Linked DNA regions of Homo sapiens: regions 1 and 2 are each reported to be linked to region 3. Evidence: microRNA targets listed by miRTarBase, many of them from high-throughput screens and not tested one by one. Region 3 holds a microRNA gene; each other region holds the end of a gene's coding sequence.

What was found. Region 3 holds the annotated microRNA hsa-miR-181b-3p (CUCACUGAACAAUGAAUGCAA, at 1,373-1,393, shown strand). A microRNA usually pairs through its seed, bases 2 to 8, with sites in the 3' UTR of a target mRNA and lowers its output. Matches are read on the target gene's strand: a 7mer-m8 pairs with bases 2 to 8, a 7mer-A1 pairs with bases 2 to 7 and ends in A, and an 8mer does both.
Region 1: miRTarBase lists RIMKLB as a target of hsa-miR-181b-3p. Seed matches in the 3' UTR shown: 7mer-m8 at 3,415-3,421 and 8mer at 686-693.
Region 2: the mRNA of MRPS25 is a reported target of hsa-miR-181b-3p. Seed matches in the 3' UTR shown: 7mer-A1 at 2,139-2,145.

What each region holds. Positions count from the first base shown.
Region 1 is chr12:8,773,365-8,777,610 of GRCh38, reverse strand. RIMKLB (ribosomal modification protein rimK like family member B) reads right to left here. Exons shown (of 6, transcript NM_001297776.2): 6 at 420-4,246. The coding sequence ends at 3,827. It overlaps A2ML1-AS1 (A2ML1 antisense RNA 1), which reads left to right. Exons shown (of 2, transcript NR_046715.1): 2 at 1,227-1,400. Among named protein-coding and RNA genes, the nearest start is that of LINC02972, 13 kb to the left of the region's middle.
Region 2 is chr3:15,049,119-15,053,364 of GRCh38, forward strand. It overlaps MRPS25 (mitochondrial ribosomal protein S25), which reads right to left. Exons shown (of 4, transcript NM_022497.5): 4 at 1-3,515. The coding sequence ends at 3,323. NR2C2 (nuclear receptor subfamily 2 group C member 2) reads left to right here. Exons shown (of 14, transcript NM_001291694.2): 14 at 1-155. Among named protein-coding and RNA genes, the nearest start is that of MRPS25, 14 kb to the right of the region's middle. RefSeq lists an enhancer at 1,315-1,394.
Region 3 is chr1:198,856,034-198,860,279 of GRCh38, reverse strand. MIR181B1 (microRNA 181b-1) reads left to right here and starts at 1,298; the gene lies at 1,298-1,407. All of the region lies in intron 2 of MIR181A1HG (MIR181A1 host gene), which reads left to right. It overlaps MIR181A1 (microRNA 181a-1), which reads left to right and starts at 1,127; the gene lies at 1,127-1,236.

The DNA of each region.
Region 1 (4,246 bases), not on the chromosome of region 3:
TTTTTTTGGCTCCTGAAAAGGCTGGTAAAGAACAGTAACAGTGCAAGCAGTTAGAATATTTCTTTAAAAACAATGTAAAAAATGCAAAACATTAAGGATCTTCAAAGGCCAAACTTTCATTAATATAGAAAGAATTTTCACTAGAGTTAGGCAGCCACCCCAAAACAGCATGGCAAAATGGCATTGGTATAAAGGAAATAAAATACCACACAAAAATCCAAAACAAAACTAAAAACATTTCAAATTAAACCTGGAAGACTAGAAGATTCCAACAGCAGATTTCTGTCCACTACTGAAACATTCCAAAATCCAAGCTCCAAAGGTGCCTAAATGTATTTTAAATGAAACTTTGTTTTGTTTTTTTAAGAAGAAAAAAAAAAAAAAAAAAAAAAAAAGAAAGCAAGCAAGCAGTCAGTGAACCTGGTTATAAATCCTGCAATATATTACATTTTTTAAAATCCTAGTACAACAAAAACAAATCTTAAATAAAATTGAACAAACAAACAAATAAAAACAGTAGCAGCAGTGGTTACCTGTCTGAGCACCTACATTTTCTTAGGAGGGGATCGTGTCTCACCAGCCAAATAGCCCATAAACCTTCTCAAAAAAAGTGAGCCAGGAGAAAAGTATAACACAAGATTTGATTTCACAATGTCTCTAAGCCCCACAAGCCCCAAACTGGGGATTCACTGAATGAAACAAATTTGCTTCTCCATTGCTTTCTTCTTGAGAAAAAGAGATGATTTTCAAAGTCAATGCCTTCAATATGTTCTCAAAGTCTGATAATGTGCTTGATGAATGCCAAGTCTCTTGTTGGGTTTTTCTACTGTTCCAGGGTAGTTTTCTTATTGGTAACATATACAGGAAGATTTCAATGTTCATTGGAGAAAAGCCAGCAGAAATGACCAATCAATTATAGGCACCAAAAAAGAAAAAAACTATTAAAAATTTTAAATAGAATAGTTCATACTTGTATGTTTAGATATATAAAGTCCAGTTTTCATCATGGGTGACATAAAAACAATATCAGAAATAATCATTTTTGAAATACAATTTAGAATTACAATTTTAACAATATACAAAAATTTTACAATTCAGATTTTATCATTACACATATTTGATATATACATTCTCTCTCATAATAGCAATGAAGATTATACAAAAGTTATTAAACAATTATGAAAATAAGTTTAACCTAAATATCTGCTGCTGTTTGTTTCCTTAAGGTACTTCCAGAATGATTTGCTCTTATTCTCTACCTCAATCTTGAAGGAATTCAAGAAGATATCCATGTTTTTAAAATCTAAGATAACTACTGCTCTTTTCATTCTAACATGTGAGTGTACGTTTTAATATCATGTGAATGCATAATAGTGAATAAAGCTAATGAACTAATTTCACATATTTCCTATAATATAGTTGGTTAATTTGGTATAAGTTAAGAAAAGACTAACTACATTTTTCCTGATGCCTTACCCCACCAACACAAACATGAACTACATACTTGTGATATGTAACTATTCAAAGTGTATGTGTCATAATACACATGGCAACCAGATGGTCTCTATATGAACATATGAATGATAATTTAATTAAGCAGTTCTTTCTTCCTCATTTATTTCTCTATACCAAATAGTATGCATCCTCCACAGTATGGTCATTCAGCGAAAGAAGTACCAAGTATTTCTTTCTGTTAATGAGTCAGAGGTATTAATATATGTATGTGAGTCCCCCATTTACCCTGCGCAAGATAAGTTCTTTTAAATGCAATTAGAATATCCTAAGATAAATTACAAACTCCTCTTATGTATCCTTTTCTCTGAGGTGAAATGAGACACTGCACAGATGAGAGGTACTATTCTATTCATCAACAATCAACCTTTCACTCAATTTTAATATTATTTAATTCTATGGAAAAAACAAATTTTATTACATTCCTTTTTAAAACGGGGGAAAAACTGTACAAGTAAGCATGATCAAACCTCTGTTATAGCTGGTTAATACTGATCTTTTATTATTGCCTCGAAGTCTCTCTAGTAGTGTCCAAGAAATTATGTTTAAGGTCCATCTGAAGGAAAATAGCACTGGAGAGGCAAGAAAGGGCTTGGGTAAAAGCTTCAGAGGATTCGTAGGGAGATGGAAAACTTGCTGTTTAAAAAATTACGTTGGGCTCTGCAGCATCTCCATTTCTTAACATACCATCCAAACCCATCAATGGGATTAGTTTTACCCATGTTTTAAAGGCTCATATTATATGCAGTTTGGGGGCTTTTATAAATTCTGCAAGTAAAGGAATATAAAGAGTGGACAGTATTGAAGGCTTAAGAGTAGGGCTATAAGAGACTCAATACTACTAAATAAGTCCCCAAACAAAAACATCCAACCCACCCCCAATCCCAAATCCTATATGTAAAAAGAGAAAATGCATAGCCAGAAGCATTAAAGAAAAGCATGTAGCCTTGAATAAACTGTACACTGAACAGGCTAGAAACAAAAGGAAAAAAACAAACAACGTACATATACACAAAAAGGCCTAAAAAAGCATCTACTCACCCTATGTTTTAAGGTGAATACCTCTACCCCAGTGGAGTCTACTTATGAAAACAACTCATCTGTTTTTTAAAGTCAAAAACTCTGTTTCCCATCATGCTCCATTTTCTAAATTATCCTTTTTGATTAGTTGATGGAAACAAAAAGCAAAACACATACACATGCATGCGTGCACACACATACACATATACTCCCTCGTAAAATGTGAAAAATGCAAATATATAACGCTGGCATTCGAAATCACTTCAGCTTTATACTTAGAACTCATAGGCTCTTGATTTGCCCCCAAAAATATTTTTCCTTGTCCTTATTTAAATGCCCAACTACCAAAACAAAAAGGGAAAAAATAAAAGGCTTTAAATGTACATGTTTCAAGTCAGTGTCTTGTTAACAAAAAAGGTAGCATTTTCTTCACTTTGGCCATTGTTAAAGATGCAGGCATAGAGCAGGAAATGTTAGACTAGCATGTATTAAAAAAAAAAAAAAAAGCAACATTAACAGAGCACATCTTTCAAAAAAGACTAAAACACTAACAAATACAAGTGAATGCACATATTTTAAACTAGTGTAATTTTATCTACATTGAATTAATGTTATTTTGTATACCGGACATTGCAATACTGTTCATTTCCATTTCATCATGCAAACATGCCAATTTTGTCATTAAGAAGCCTTTATTGGGTTATATTCAATTTGACCTCCCACCAAATTAAGCGGGAAAAAACAAAAAAATAAGAAATCCCAGTAAAAGAGCCCCTCAAGATTTCATAAACTACAAACTAAAGCTGCTAGTTAATAAGGAAATGGCAGAATTTTCAGAGCTGTATAATACAAAAATTCCTGTAATTTATGCAGATGTTTTCCTCACTGATGACAAATCTTCCAACACAATGTGAAGTTATGCTACTTGGATATTTGTAGCAAAACCATTTTTTTTTGTACAAAAACAAAAGCAAGGGACCATGAAAAAAAAAAAGTATTTGTTCCTCATGGCCTATGAGCATACACATTTTTTAGCAATTTAAAAGGGTAACTATGAGAGCCTGACATTTTTCTATACCCCACCTATTCTGCCTCTCTATTTGTAGGATTTGTAAATGAAAGTAACATCTTACTAGCAGAGGTCTCATCTATCTCCCACTCTCTCCAACTAATCCTACTAATTTTCTCTCATCTTCCTGAGCATCCTCCATGAACAGCATTGCAAGTTGGTTTTAAAAATAGAAAAGAAGAAAGAAAGTTTTACAAGGGTTTTGTTGGTTAATTACCAGTGGAGTCAGTCCACCAGTAGTTTGATTTCATTGGCTAGCAGCTGGTTCATGTTGAACAGGCCCCCTGGGAGCTTGGTGAGCAGCTCTCGCTCCGTGCTTTCAGGGTCGCTGTCAACAGAGCTGGAACTTGCACTCATGTTGTCAACAGCAGTGCTGGCTGGGGGACCCAGCTCCGGCTCACTAGTCTCACTGGCAGTGGACACCACGGAGAGCAGGGACATACGCCGGGTGAGCCGGCCAGAGGGTAGAAGGGAGGCGGCATAGTCTGCTATGATACCAGCTACATCTAGATTACAAGCCTTATCAAAGGCGATGAAACCTACATTTGCATTGGCCTCACAGACGCAGAAGGAGCCGTCATCTTTCATCAGCAGATCAATGCCACACACATCCATCCCCAGGATATTAGACACCTGGATAGCTAG
Region 2 (4,246 bases), not on the chromosome of region 3:
AGAATTTGCATTGTTGTGTTTGTATATAGAGTATTGCAGTGCATGAATTAGCTTTATGCATTTTATTAAATGCTGTTTCAATGTGGCATTATTGTTGTGGCTTAATACTACTACCTAAATGAGGTTTATACTATTAAAAGTGAATTAAAGACTAACATGCATCCTGCTCTTCATTTTTCTTCATGATAGTAGTAATGCCTGGCCCCCAAACAATGCAGCGCTCTCTTGTGTTATGGACATGAAGCATCCTGGTGGTCCTGTCTCTACAGCTCTCTGGCTCCTACCTTAGCCTTAGCGGCCAAGAGGGATTGGGCCCTCTGTGGTCCACTGGACTTATTAATACCTTTAGTGGGAAACCCTGGCAGGACAGTCTTTACATCCACCCAGCAAGGCAGCTCCTTGGTGTGGAGGTAGGGAAGCCACACACATGTTTCTGGAGCAGAGCACAGTTAGGCTGCTGGAACATTCAGATGCCATTACAGACAGGCCTTAAATTGGCAAGCTTATTCTCTAAGGATACGTGCTATCAAGGGCAAAAACAAGCTCCAAAAGTTTCAGAAGTTAGAACATATTCATTATGTCATCTGACCTCTCATGTTCCAGGTGAAAATTCTGAGGTCCAAAGTCTGATGCATGACAGAACTCACTGGCAGGCAGATAGGGCCTCACTCCGTCACCCAGGCTGGAATGCAGTGGTACAGTCATGGCTCACTCCAGCCTCAACCTCCTGGGCTCAAGTGATCCTCCTGCCTCAGCCTCCTGAGTAACTGGGACCACAGCAGATGATACAGGTTTAGATGGTGCTGCCAGGTAGTGCCTCAAAGAGAAGAAAAGTGGTCACTTCAGAATAAGGCTGTGAACACTGCTTGTGCAAGTAAAATTAAGAACATGTTATCAATTATAAAATCCTCACATTTTCTCTAATTAATTTTCTCCCATTTCTGTATATTTTAAACCCATCTTTCATCACTACTAAACAAAATAGGGAAAGACAAAGGTTTAAAGAGAAACTATCCAGGATCAAGTAGCCTACAGGGAACAAAAAAAGAAAATAATGTTTATTTCCACAAATTATCTGCTGCCTGTGAAGCTGGCCACACAGGCAGTAACTGCACCACAGGACTGCTGCTGTCTCCACACGTCCTTTCAGGGTCTGGGCTGTCCACCTCACTGCCCATTGCTCCTGTGTCAAGCCTGAACTCAAACCCTAGTTATCTGTCCCATTAGGGACCAGACATTTATTCTGTCTAGAGAATGGTCACCACTCCTTTTGGTTCAGGACATTCCTGCTGGTTAGCAGCCTCTTTGGGCCCTAGAGGGAAGGAATACTCTCATAAGGCTTTGTGTGTCACTAGCTATGGAGACCTACACTGCAGATGAAAGCCAAAAGGAACTAGGTGCTTTCTGAAGAGCCCTTGCAGCCAAGTAGAACGCCCAGGCAGGTGGTATCAAGGTCAAGACTTCAGTCAGTTGGGTGGGGAACTGAAACCAGCAGACATGGGAGGGCTCTCTGTGGAGGAGAGCTTTTTCCACCCAGCCAAAATGCTGATAGCAGAGAGACAAGATGCTAGATTTCAATTAAACACTCCCTTTGTAAGTCTGTCACTCAAGGAACACCTGTCCATTATACATCAGTCTCTGCCCACCTTCCCCTCCCACCCCCGACAAGCCATCACCCCAAACCCAGATCTGGTACAGAATCAAACTTGAGCATCAAATGTAAAAGATCCAAATCTGCTCAATTTAATGTGATAATCTCCAACAGTTAATGAAACACATCGTAGTATGACATCATTTCACCAGCCAGCTACTTCATGTGGCAGAAAAGGTAACCTTTTCCCCATTTTACAGACAAAACCAGTTACAGACCTGGAAAGCTTTTAGGACTTGACCAAGGCCCCAGCAGGTAGAGGAATGAAAACTTCAGTCCTGCTCTGTCAAGCACCACTGTCCTTTTTTAATTCTTTTAACCACTGCCTTCCTGTCTCAGATAAAGTCAGGTCTCCTTGGCTGAGTTTCTAGGGGTCCGTGGTCCAACTGGTCCTTCACTTTATAATTAAACTTATTTAAAAAATTTTTTTTCTTGAGACAGTCTTGCTCTGTGGCCCAGGCTGGAGTGCAGTAGCGCACGATCATGATTCACTGCAGCCTTGATCTCGCAGGCTCGAGATCCTCCCACCTCAGCTTCCCAAATAGCTGGGACTACAGACGCGAAACACCACACCCATCTAATTTTTGTACTTTTTGTAGAGACAAGGTCTTGCCATGTTGCCCAGGCTGGTCTCGAACTCCTGGGCTCAACTATCCGCCCACATCAGCCTCCCAAAGTGCTGGGATTACAGGCATGAGCCACCACACCCAGCCTAGCTAAACCTATTCTTAAGGTGACCCTAGAAGGCTCTGCTGTCTTCTGGAGGCTGAAACCTCCACTTTAGCATAACTAAAGTGACAGTAACATCAGTGTCCTATGAGGAAAGAACAAGGAAGGTGCTCAGTAATGCAGCACTCCCTCCTCCAGAGCTTGGTAAGCAGGGCCTGAGGGAGCCAGCAGAGCCAGCTATAGACACCATCCCCCCAGCAGGGCCCCAATGTCTCCACTAGGTGGTGTCTCCTCATTTCCTCCATGGCCTACAAACCTCCCTGCTAATGCACACAGTGGCTGGGCCATGGGTTGGCAGTGGCTGACTGGTCAGCAGGTACGTGCCTGAGTGAGGCTGGCCTGTCAGCCACTGGGGCTCCTCCATCTCTGGCCCATGGCTAGGCCCCCCAGCAGGCAAGGGTAATCAACTGTACTTAAAAAAGTGAGCACTGCACGAAGGGTTGCCTTTGGATTTCTGAAAAATACCCCCAAGGAACTGAACGGAGGGGTGTACACACTGCCAACCACAGACAGTGCTAGCCAGACTCAACCACAGCAGCCCTTATGTTCTCCAGAGTAGAGCCCAGAGGAAGATTCAAAGCCAGCGGAGACCAGTAAAGGGTCGCAGGACCAAAACAGGTGTCAACAGGCTGTGGCCTTAACCTCTCAGGCCCAAAGCCTTTCTGCTACACAGGCCTTCCTCTTCACTAGGACCAGATACACGCCAAGCTGCTATTAGGAAGCGTTTTATTGACCAGCAGAGCAGGGATATTCATTTAGCAGCTCAGCTTCAGACCCTCCTCTCCCACATCCTTTTACACAGGTGTGTAAAGTCCTTTTAATGCAAAAGGATTTCCAGAGTCTCCAGGGACAGAACCAGGGGCTTCCCTGGGCCAAAGTAATCCCATTCCAATCTCCCCACTGGTCAGACACCATCACCCCAGCCCACAGTGACCGTGGGCCTTAGTCCTGGGCATCGGCTTTCAGAGCGGCTTTGTACTTCCCCCTCATCTCCTTGGGTAATGGCACCAGGCTGGGGCAGGGCACCTGCCCTTCCACTTCACAGATGCACTCCCGCAGGCAGTACTTTCGAGGGCCGAAGTTGGCTGGGTGAGAAAGCTGCTTTTTCTCCTCCTCCTCTTCCCTGAGGGTTTCCCTGCCAAAGAGCACAGACGGCAACCAAGCATTGGCAACTTTGAGTGGCAGGCACAGGGCAGTTTCTCAGCCGAGACAACCCCACCATCCACCAGGGACACCTGGATCTCCTGCCTTCTAACCTGATCCTCACTGTCAAAGCCTATCGCTGTCTCCCTGCTGGCCCCTGAGGAGAGCGCTGAAAGAAGGCCTGCTGTTGTCCCCTCACACCACAGCAGCAAGCCTACACAGTGCGGTCAGCCTATCTGCTGCCACAGGTGGAGCCCACAGCTCTCACATGCAATCACAAGATAAAGGAGCCTGAAAAGGCCTCTGTGTGGTTTCTCAAAGACAGACTTTTTCAGCTTCCGTCCCTTTCTGTCTCCTCTCATTCATGGAAAGAAAGACCTGTCACCAGGAGCCCTAGGGCTAGATGTCTGCTAGCTCCAAGCTGAGATTCCCAGGAGAGATGGGTTAGCAGCTGCACAGGGCCACAAGTCAGCTGCATTTCAGCTTCCCGTCCCCCGCAAGAGGGAGAGAGGTACTTCTCACACTGTACAGCCAAGGGAGATAAAGCTTACAGAGGTTTAATGATTTGGTAAAGAGCAACATCAGAAAGAACTGATTCTACAGCCCCAGCTCTTATTAGTGTCTGGCGTTCACTGTCAGAGAATCTTACCTCTCAACACCCTTCCCACACACCCCTTTCTTCCTCAAATTCTCTGGGCTGAGAAGTTTGTTCCTTCCAGGTCA
Region 3 (4,246 bases):
AAAATCTGTTGAAGTTTTCATGTAAATAGTTTGTCTAAAAGGTTAAACAATTATTGGCTTTAAAATAATTCTAAGTGACTGAAATGTAAGAATGTGTAAAAATTTGGGATACATATTTCACTAACATTTCGAGAGTAATTGCCTTGACTTGAATAGACCATTATCACCTTCAAAGTAGCATTCCAAATTATTGTGGGTTGTCCCTCCTACAGATAATTACTCTATAACCATATTAGATGCAACTTAAATGTGTGAAATAATGACTTTCTATTCTGGTTTAGATACATCCAAGGTGACTTTTGTTTTAATTGATGGTAGAAAATTATTGAAAATGGCTCTAAAAATAAATTCAGTAGAGTTCATAATAATTTTAAAATAAGCATTAATGATAAAACAGTCTTAGAAAATAAGACTATGAAAAGAATCCCTCACCCATCTACCCATAAAGAGATGTTAGATGTTAGATGTTATTTAAAATAATAGGAAATGAACGGTTTTGTAGCATACATAGATTGTATTTACCTTTCACTGTATTCATGAACTCTTTGTGCCATAAACTAAGAAAAATGTATTGAGCTGGTTTCTTCACTTATAATTTGTTCAGCATTTTCTAAATAAGATTGTTCTTAGGAAGTTATACTAATTTTAAAACCTTATTTTAGAATAAAATATAGTAAATATATAATGTAAATATAAATGATATCATCAATGCCAATTTGAGGAAATCTAAGGTAATTCTGTTTAATTTCTGTATAAGCTATATACATAATGCTTGCTTACTATAAGCGTAACAATATTTAAATTATAAGATATTGTTTGGATTTTATACCACAAAGTACTTTGAATAACAAATTGTCCCTGTCTTTAACAGTGAGATAATTCCATCTCTGGAACTAGCCCAATATCGGCCATGTTTTTGCTTAATGAAACCGATCCTTTTCTCTCATACAATGTGATGTGGAGGTTTGCCAAACTCTTTGTTGGAAGAATCATGCTTCTTATTTGTCTTCTTTTGTAGTCTTTTGAAATGGCATAAAAATGCATAAAATATATGACTAAAGGTACTGTTGTTTCTGTCTCCCATCCCCTTCAGATACTTACAGATACTGTAAAGTGAGTAGAATTCTGAGTTTTGAGGTTGCTTCAGTGAACATTCAACGCTGTCGGTGAGTTTGGAATTAAAATCAAAACCATCGACCGTTGATTGTACCCTATGGCTAACCATCATCTACTCCATGGTGCTCAGAATTCGCTGAAGACAGGAAACCAAAGGTGGACACACCAGGACTTTCTCTTCCCTGTGCAGAGATTATTTTTTAAAAGGTCACAATCAACATTCATTGCTGTCGGTGGGTTGAACTGTGTGGACAAGCTCACTGAACAATGAATGCAACTGTGGCCCCGCTTTTTGCTGTCACAATCAACAGATATTCCATCTTTGAAAGATGTGTTCAAAATAGTACTATTGTTCTTTAAGTTTTCCAATTCGTCAGCATCTTCTGGTTTATTTATTCAATTTATATCATGTGATGAGATTTCAATGAAAAAGACTCTGGTTTAAACAAGAATAATGCTTCTCTATCTTTTGTATGCTATAAACAGAGCATGTTTTAGAAAAGGCAAAACTATTTTGTCCATCAAACGTACAGTATCATCATCTAGGTTAGCTCACCTTCCTACTGTTGTAGTGTGAGTGAAAAAAAGACATAAAGTAGGACCTCAGCACCCATGCCATTGACAATAACACACTTACAAATATGTGTTCTTTACAACTTTTGTTAGATGTTCTGGTCAAAGTGGGATAGAAACACCAGATAATTTTAGCTTTCTGCTTCTCTGGGTGAGGATTTGCTCATATAATTCTGCCTCTTGCTATGTAACATGCTAAATACGAAGAAAATAATATATACATAACTATATAACTATCAGAACACTCATGACAGTCATATAGTAGATTGATTTTCCCAATTCAATTTCCACTTTAAAACTTTACCCACTTTCTATGTGCATGAACTGCGTGGTTAGACTTACAGTCATGGCCCATTAATTGCCTCATGTTTACTCATCTGACTTTGCAAGTAAAAGCCTATGCATATCATGGTTTTTCTTAAGTGGTTTGCCTCTGCATTTTTATATAGGACATCTGTCATTAAATTTGATCACAGCAGTTTTAAGTTTACCATTTGTAATGATAATAATTATATAGCAAAATAAAATGCTTTCTCAAGTGTCTATGTTTGGAGTACCTGGATGGCTTCAATGTTCATTTTTTTTTAATGGTCAAATAAATTATCCTTTCTTTTCCTTGATCTTTTAAATCCCATTTGCCTTTAACTCCCATTACAGAAACCCATTGCTGGGACCCGGCTCTTGACCTCATCATAACCTTAAAATATTTTACCACATTCGATATCTAATATCCCACTCTGTCTATCACTTCTTACCATTCTAGTTTCTCATTCTCTTATCTCCAAGGCAACTGTCCTTTCAATATCAGTGTTGCTGAAAAATAAAATCACATCATCATATGGACACATTAATACACATACTCAGGGGCCTCCAAGTGCCTCAGTCCCTCAACTCTGACCCAGCATTTCTTCTACTCCACTCCCTCATGTTTAGCCTAAATGTTTACCTCTTTCCTCAACTGCTCCTTTCCACGATTCCACTCTCAACAGATGAACTGACTTCTGTTTTTCATTGAGAAGCTTGAGTCCATGTGATTATTCCCTCCACTTCCTTGTTTATAGCCTATGAATGCGTAGGATTCTGCCCTGAGTTGTCTCACGTGAGCCTCCTGCCTTGCTTGGGACATCTCTTCCCCTGTGATATCCCCCTCCTCTCTCACCATCTGGCTCCATTTCACATGTAACAAGGTTCAGTTTTCTCTCTTCTCAAATAGAAAACAAAAGAAATTTGAGAAAAACTTCTCTATACTTGCTTTATCCTCAAGTTACTTACCCCACTTCTTTTCTTCTTTTTAAAAGCTAAGATTTTAGAAATAGTACATAGTAGCCTGCAGCACTGTCTATATTTGTTTACTTCCCATTTCACCTCAACTATATGTAATTTGGCATCTTCTACCATTTCTCTCTCCCACTTGTGCATAACATCATTCTAATGACACTGCTTTTCCCCAAATCACCAGTGAGCTCCATATTGCCAAATACAAATCAAACTTTTCTGCCAGTTGTCCTACTCGAACTCCCCTTGATGCCTGACACAGCTGACCACTTCTTCCTAAACTCCAGTCCCCATTCACTTTTGTGATCCTACTCTCATTTGGATTTCTCTCTTTATTACAGTGATGTCCTATTTATTTATTTATTTTTAAGAAGCTCTTCATCTGCTTGAACTCCCAATGCCAGTATCCTTCTGAGACCCATTCTTAACTTTATGGCTTTTTTTCTCTTCTCTTGTCTCACAATCTTTGAAGGAATCTCAGGCACGTGAATGATGTTTACATCTGCTCAGATGCTGCAGATACCCAAGTCTTTATCTCCAGCTTACACATCCCAAAGCTACATATCTGTCTTCTGCTCTTCTCACAGACCAAAGCCCATCCATGACTACAGATAACGTATCATCTTTTTCCCAAGGGATAACACTCTTGATCTACTTGGAAACCAAAGCCATAAATCTCAATTCATTTCATGTTCCTGGACCTTGCTTCCTCTCCTTTTCTAAACATACAATCGCACAGTCCTGAAGATGTTCACTTTTTATCTTGCTAATATTTCAATTATTCTGTATACTTCTACTGAACTTTAGTCCAGAAACGCACACCTCTTACTTGGACTATTCCAATGGTCTCCTAACTCCCACCATCAGCCATCCATCTGTTCAATATTTTCTTCACAGTATTTTAAAAAGTGATTTTAAAAATGTAATCATATTGTGAAACCGTTTAATCCACTTGGAATAAAATGTTTAATAGATGGATCGTTCTGGCGGGAAAAGCATTGTGAATATTAGCTAAATGAGAAAAAGATAATATCTGGAACTTCGTACAAGTTCTCAAGCTTAATTTCAGTATATTAATGAATTAAATGTAATTTCTGAAAATTTTCTAAAATAAACGTAGTTGAAAATTTAATATCCTTGAAATGATGAAGAACATTTTCAATTTTAACACAAACGAGGCAAAAAGAAAAGACAAGCATGACTTTGACTACATTGAACTTCAAACTATAACGTGTCAAAAATAACCATATAATGAAAAGGCAGATAGCCAAATGAAAATGAA